2 separate regions of the Homo sapiens genome follow, and region 2 is linked to region 1. Evidence: fine-mapped expression QTL. A gene starts in region 1. The other region holds a variant in brackets. All regions are shown on one strand. Distances are from middle to middle.

What was found. PIP is the estimated chance that this variant, and not a neighbour inherited with it, causes the effect.
Region 2: its variant is fine-mapped to the expression of ZNF746 in whole blood (TOPMed, PIP 0.96).

The regions. Positions count from the first base shown.
Region 1 is chr7:149,496,459-149,499,364 of GRCh38, reverse strand. ZNF746 (zinc finger protein 746) reads left to right here and starts at 1,556. Exons shown (of 7, transcript NM_001394198.1): 1 at 1,556-1,852. The coding sequence starts at 1,829. RefSeq lists silencers at 1,192-1,861, 2,102-2,161 and an enhancer at 2,295-2,906.
Region 2 is chr7:149,595,420-149,598,325 of GRCh38, reverse strand. TRC-GCA20-1 (tRNA-Cys (anticodon GCA) 20-1) reads right to left here and starts at 371; the gene lies at 300-371. It also overlaps the pseudogene ZNF767P. The variant C/A (reference allele first, on the strand shown) is at 1,315.

The sequences.
Region 1 (2,906 bases):
AAAAATGTCTCTTTATTTCTAATGCACTGTATTTCTGTCACCCAGTGGTGTGATCTCCACTCACTGCAACCTCTGCCTCCCGGGTTCAAGCGATTCTCGTACCTCAGCCTCCCCAGTAGTTGGGATTACAGGTGCGTGCCACCACGCCTCGCTAATTTTTTCTATTTTTAGTAGAGACGGGGTTTTGTCATGTTGCTCAGGCTGGTATCAAACTCCTGAGCTCAGGCAATCCACCCATCTTGGCCTCCCAAAGTGTTAGAATTACGGGCGTGAGCCACTGCGCCCGGCCCTAAAATGCTTTATATCTTCCTACATCAATTTTTTTTTGGGCTGTCATCCAGCTCACACCTCTACTACCACCCTCTGGTCTGAAATGCTCTCTGCCTATCAATATTTTGCCAATTCTTCAAGATCCAGCTCAAATTTTATCTATTCTGTAAGGTCTGCCTTCTTTGAAAAAGATTACAGATCTCTCACATATTTTCTTATCAGTGTGTGCTAGGCAGTTGGCTAGTTAGTCTTGGGGAATACACAGATGAGCAAGTCGTGTTCCTGAAAGGCAATGAGCCTCTGAAACTACGTGGGGGCCCGTCCAAGGCGCCCTCCTTCCCCTGCTCTGGTTGGCCTCTTTGAGAACATTTAAATTTTTATTTTTCTCTCCTTGTTTAAAAATACTATCCTTGTCATGGAAAAATAAAAACATGAATTGGAAAAAATTAGAAAAGGCATAAAAACGGCCCGTGGTCTATTAAAGGAATAGACCTTTAATAGAACTACTGAGGCCATGTTGATATATATGCTTCCAAACTTTTCAAAACTGTAATTATACATGTACGCAGTATATGACGCTACATATGTCCTATATTGTTTTAAAATGTTATTTTTAAAACAAAGACAGGATCGTCCTGGACAGGCTTTTTCTCTTAAAACATCATGAACATCTGTTCCTACCAAGACCTTCACCGAAATCATTTTAAATGATGGTATTGCGTCCCATTGCTCATGCCATTAAAAAAATTTACTGTAATAAACCCATTACAGAAAATGCTAAGTGGTTGCCTACCGGGGTTTACCGAACTATATTCCTGTTGTTGGAAGTATTTATTCCATTTCAAACACAGGTGGGCATGAGTTACATCTGTCCTCCCCAAAATAGCCTAAACCTCCAGACCCAGGACCTCGGGCAGCAGAAGTGCCCGTGGGGCGGGGGAAGGGGAGCCGGGCATCCCAGGGCGAGGGGGCCGCCCTGGCCGCGGTCACCCGGGGGACGCCCTGCCCGGAAGCCCGTGCTCGCCCGCGGGCGCGGCCAGGCGGGTCCCATGAGGGGGACCCTTTCAATAACCGAGTCCTCGGGCTGGGCCGCGGGGCCAGCGCAGTGACTCCCCCCGCGCTCGGCAGTCCGGCCGGGGTCGCGGGGTCGCGGGGTCGCGGGGTCGGCCCGGGGTCGCTAGGTCCTCCCGTCGGGCCCCGCGGGCGGGGCTGGGCGGGGCGGGGCGGGGCCGCGGGCAGGCGGGCGCAGCGCCTGCCGTTCGCCTCTCAGGCTGCAGGTGGGGCTGTGCGGCCGCGCTGCCTCCAGGAAGCCTCACGGGCCTTCGTCTGCCGGGCCGCGGCGCCGGCTCCCAGGATGCAGTGTGGACCGGCCGGGCGCTGACGGAGGCGGCGCGACTGCGGGCGGCGCGGCGCAGGGGCAGCCAGCGAGGAGCGGCGGCAGAGGAAAGGCCAGGCAGGCGCCGCCTGCGGAGAGCACCGGGCGGCCGGGCCTGCGTGGTGCCGCGCGCGGCGGCGGCGACGACGACTTCCTCCGGGCCGGGCGGGACAGCGCAGGGCCATGGCCGAGGCGGTCGCGGCTCCGGTAAGGGCGACCCGCGCGCGCAGGGACTCGCGGCCTGGGGGCCCCAGGCGGCCCGGCCCCGGCACACGGCGCCGCAGGCCCTGGGGAGGGGTTCCGGGGTCCGGGCCGGACCACCGGGCCTGGGGCTCCCGCGAATGGGGCGCGGGGTCCGCCGGGGCCTACTGCGCCCGTCGGCCGGGCCCCCACTCCGAGCCGAACCCGAGCGCTGGCGGAACGGTTGTCCCCGCCCCGGGCCGCCCCACGCCAAGTTCTTTGGGCCCTCCGGGGCTTCCTGCCCCCGCCCCAGCCGCTGTCCCCTCCTTCTGGGTGCCCCCCCACCCGCGGCTCCTTTCTCTGCCTGGCGCTCGGCCTGTAGGTCCCTCTCCATCTCCCCCGCAGCGGCCTGGTGGCACCTGGGAGGTGTCCGGCTTCGAATCCGCATACACCGACTCCCACTACGTGCCCAGCTTCCCGGGGTCGGCGCGGAAGGGAATATAGAGCCACGCACTTCCACAAGCCCTGTTGAGGCGTTAGTCTGTCCTCACAGCAAGCCTGTGGGATGGGTACTGGTGTTAATCTCTGTCATACAAAAGAAAAACCCGGGGCCTAGAGAACTTAACTTGCCCAGGCTTACCCAGCTGGAAAGTGTGAAAAGACACACAGTGGCTGTGTGTTCAAGGACCAGGCAGGCAGGTACGCGGGCAATAATCGTGCAAAACAGAAAGGGGTGAGTGCTGGCGCCCAGGTGGAAGCTTGCGGTGGGCTCCGGGGGAAGGAGTGTCAGGGGGCCTCTTGGTACCGCTGTCCACCCCTCCTGGCCTGATGCTCTGCGCCTCTGTGATTTGAGCCGGGCTTTTAGGGAAGGCTAGGATTTCAGGCCCAGCTAGACCGGTGGTGCTTTCAGGGAGGGAGGAGTGCCTGGGCAAAGGCGCAGAGAGACGGGACAGTGCAGGGCGTGTGCAGGCACAGAAAGGAGTCCATGAGCCTGGAGAAGATGGTTTTGGTTTGGAGGCAGTGGGAAAGGAGTCTGCAGAGAGAGACTAAGAAGGGGTTTGCATGCCTGGACTTCATCCTG
Region 2 (2,906 bases), 99 kb before region 1:
CTGCAGTACTACTCTCTGGTCTGCCCTGGAAAAACCCAGAAGCATACTGCATCACAGCTTGAGAAATTACATCTATAGGGGGAGCAGGGAGCTAGATACCAAGAATACCAAGAATATGAGGGATACCCGTGGAACTGGTGCTGGGAGAAGTTATCCAGCCAGGTTGCAGCTGGGTAGGCCTGAGCTGTAGCTTCCAGTTCCAGGGAAAATCATAGGTGGAATGGATGAAAAGAAACTGGAATGTGACCAACAGCTTCTGTGAAGAATATAACAGCTTGTATGAATAGAAAAAGTGCAGTAGGGGGCACCCAGATTTGAACTGGGGACCTCTTGATCTGCAGTCAAATGCTCTACCCCTGAGCTATACGCCCTGCTTGTCATAAGTGTCTAATAACCACTTTTCATGTTGGTAATCGCACCCAGGAGTCCTACAGCACATTGAAAGTTCCTGCTTACTTTTAGAGAGTAAGACCAGCAACTGATTTTACCACAAACTCACCCCAGAAAAGTCCATCCCCAGTTGCCAAACCCTGGCCCCTGCTCACATGCCTGCACAATCTCCCCGCTTTCCCTCAGTCCGTGGTGACAGGAGCAGCTGAGAGGAGTGTTTCCGTTTACTGCTGGAACAGCCTTTAGGTCTCCATGTTTGATGTCTTCTTGTTTACACTACAAAATAGCAGTTTGGAGACACAAATTGAGACACATGCAGTACTGACATATATAGATATCTCTCAGTCTGGGATCTTTGCATTAAATCCAGTTCATGAAAGACTTGGTGAAGTTGGGGGAGTTCCTAGGCCCTGACATGGATCAGAGAGTAGTCCTGGGAAGCATCATGGAGACAACATAGCATGAGGACCACACAGCTCCTCCAGGTTTTGGCCAGAAAACTCCGCTGCTAGTGTGGAAAGCTCTACCCTGAACTACACCTCCATTCCCAGTGCATGGCTGTTTTTAACGTTACATATATTTTTATAATTTATCAGAAGTTTGGACTGGTTGGAGCCCACCACAGCGCCACAAAGCCTCCGTAGCCAGACTGCCTTTCTAGATTCCTCCTCTCTGGGCAGGGTATCTCTGAAAGAAAGGCAGTAGCCTCATTCAGGGCCTTGTAGATAAAACTCCCATATCCCTGGGACAGAGCACCTGGGGGAAAGGGGTGGCTGTGGGCACAGCTTCATCAGACTTAAACTTTTCTGCCTGCCGGCTCTGAAGAGAGCAGTGGATCTCCCAGCACAGTGCTCAAGCTCTGCTAAGGGACAGACTGCCTCCTCAAGTGGGTTCCTGACCCCCGTGCCTCCTGATGGGGAGACA[C/A]CTCCCAGCAGGGATCAACAGACACCTCATGTAGGAGAGCGCTGGCTGGCATCTGGCGTGTGCCCCTCTGAGACGAAGCTTCCAGAGGAAGGAGCAGTCAGCAGTCTTTGCTGTTCTGCAGCCTCTGCTGGTGATACCCAGGAAAACAGTGTCTGGAGTGGACCACCAGCAAACTCTTAGCAGACCTGCAGAAGAGGGGCCTGACTGTTAGAAGGAAAACTAACAAACAGAAAGCAATAGCATCAAATAAACGAAAAGGACGACCACACAAAAACCCCATCTGAAGGTTACCAACATCAAAGACCAAAGGCATTTCTCTATTTCTCTTTCTTTCCCTTCTTTCACTCCCTCCCTCCTTCCCTTCTTCCTTCTCTTTTTTTTCTTTTGAGACAAGGTGTTGCTCTGTCACGCAGGCTGAAATGCAGTGGCATGATCATAGCTCACTACAGCCTCAAGCCATCCCACCTTAGCCTGCTCTATAGCTGGGACTCCAGGTACATGCCATGACATTTCACAGGACATATCCACAGAAAATTGTGGCATTAGCATGATTTGAGGGTGAGATTTTTGGCCCTCTTATATCAAAAGGCCACCTCTCAGGCACTTGCTCAGACCAGTTGAAGAGTCAGTTGTCTAAACCAGTTTTAGCTGGACAGGAGCTGGCCCAAGTGCCTGAAAAACAACTGAAGTGACCATCACCATGTGACCTACGTAAGTTCTATAAAGCCTCCCATGAAAGTTAAGTTTCTGCATTGAGCATTGAGGCTTTCAGGTACGGTGGCCTTCAGCTTCGTGGAAATAGGGAAATAATAACAACAAAAAGCAAGCAGGGCAGTTGGGCCTGATCAGATTAATCCCTCCATTTGAAGGCAAGCAGGAAACAACCGGCCTTGGGGGCTCAGGGGTTACAAGGCACAAGTGAACCACTTGGAAGTGGCCCTGGATCTTCACTTATTTTTGCATCTGTGACCTTCACCATGAGACTTTGCAGATCTTCCCACTAGAGGTGGAACATGCTTCCCTGCTCTTGAGTTAGGGCTTGCTTCTCTGACTTGATTTGATCAATGAGATGTTAGCACATGTGATGCAAACAGAGGCTTGAAAGCTGCTTGCATAGTTGGGCCTCCCCCTTTGCATTTCTGCTGTCACCACCAGAAGAGTGTCCCCTTGCTAGCTGCTACTCCTCCAGCTGGGATTGTGGAAGGAACACACATGGAGCAAACTTGAGCCCGGCTCAGACAGAAACCAAGCACAGATGGACCCACAGCTTGAAGCAGACCCAGCCTACATCAGCTGATTGGCATCCATGCTGCTGACCTATCAGCACGAGACATGCTTATGGTTTCATACAGCCTAATTTTGGGATGATTTGTTGTGACACATTGTTGTGGAAATAGCTGACTAATACAGCCTTGATTCTTACACCTGCCTCTCCCCCAACCCTCATCCCCTATTCCCATCAGGTACTGAGTAAGGGAATGGGAGGAGATAGTTGAAGGAGTTCAGGTTGTGGCTACAGAGTAGGAAAGTACCATTAGACCAGTGAAGGGTCTCTGGGAAATGGAGGGGTGAACTCATGACCAGAAGGGCGG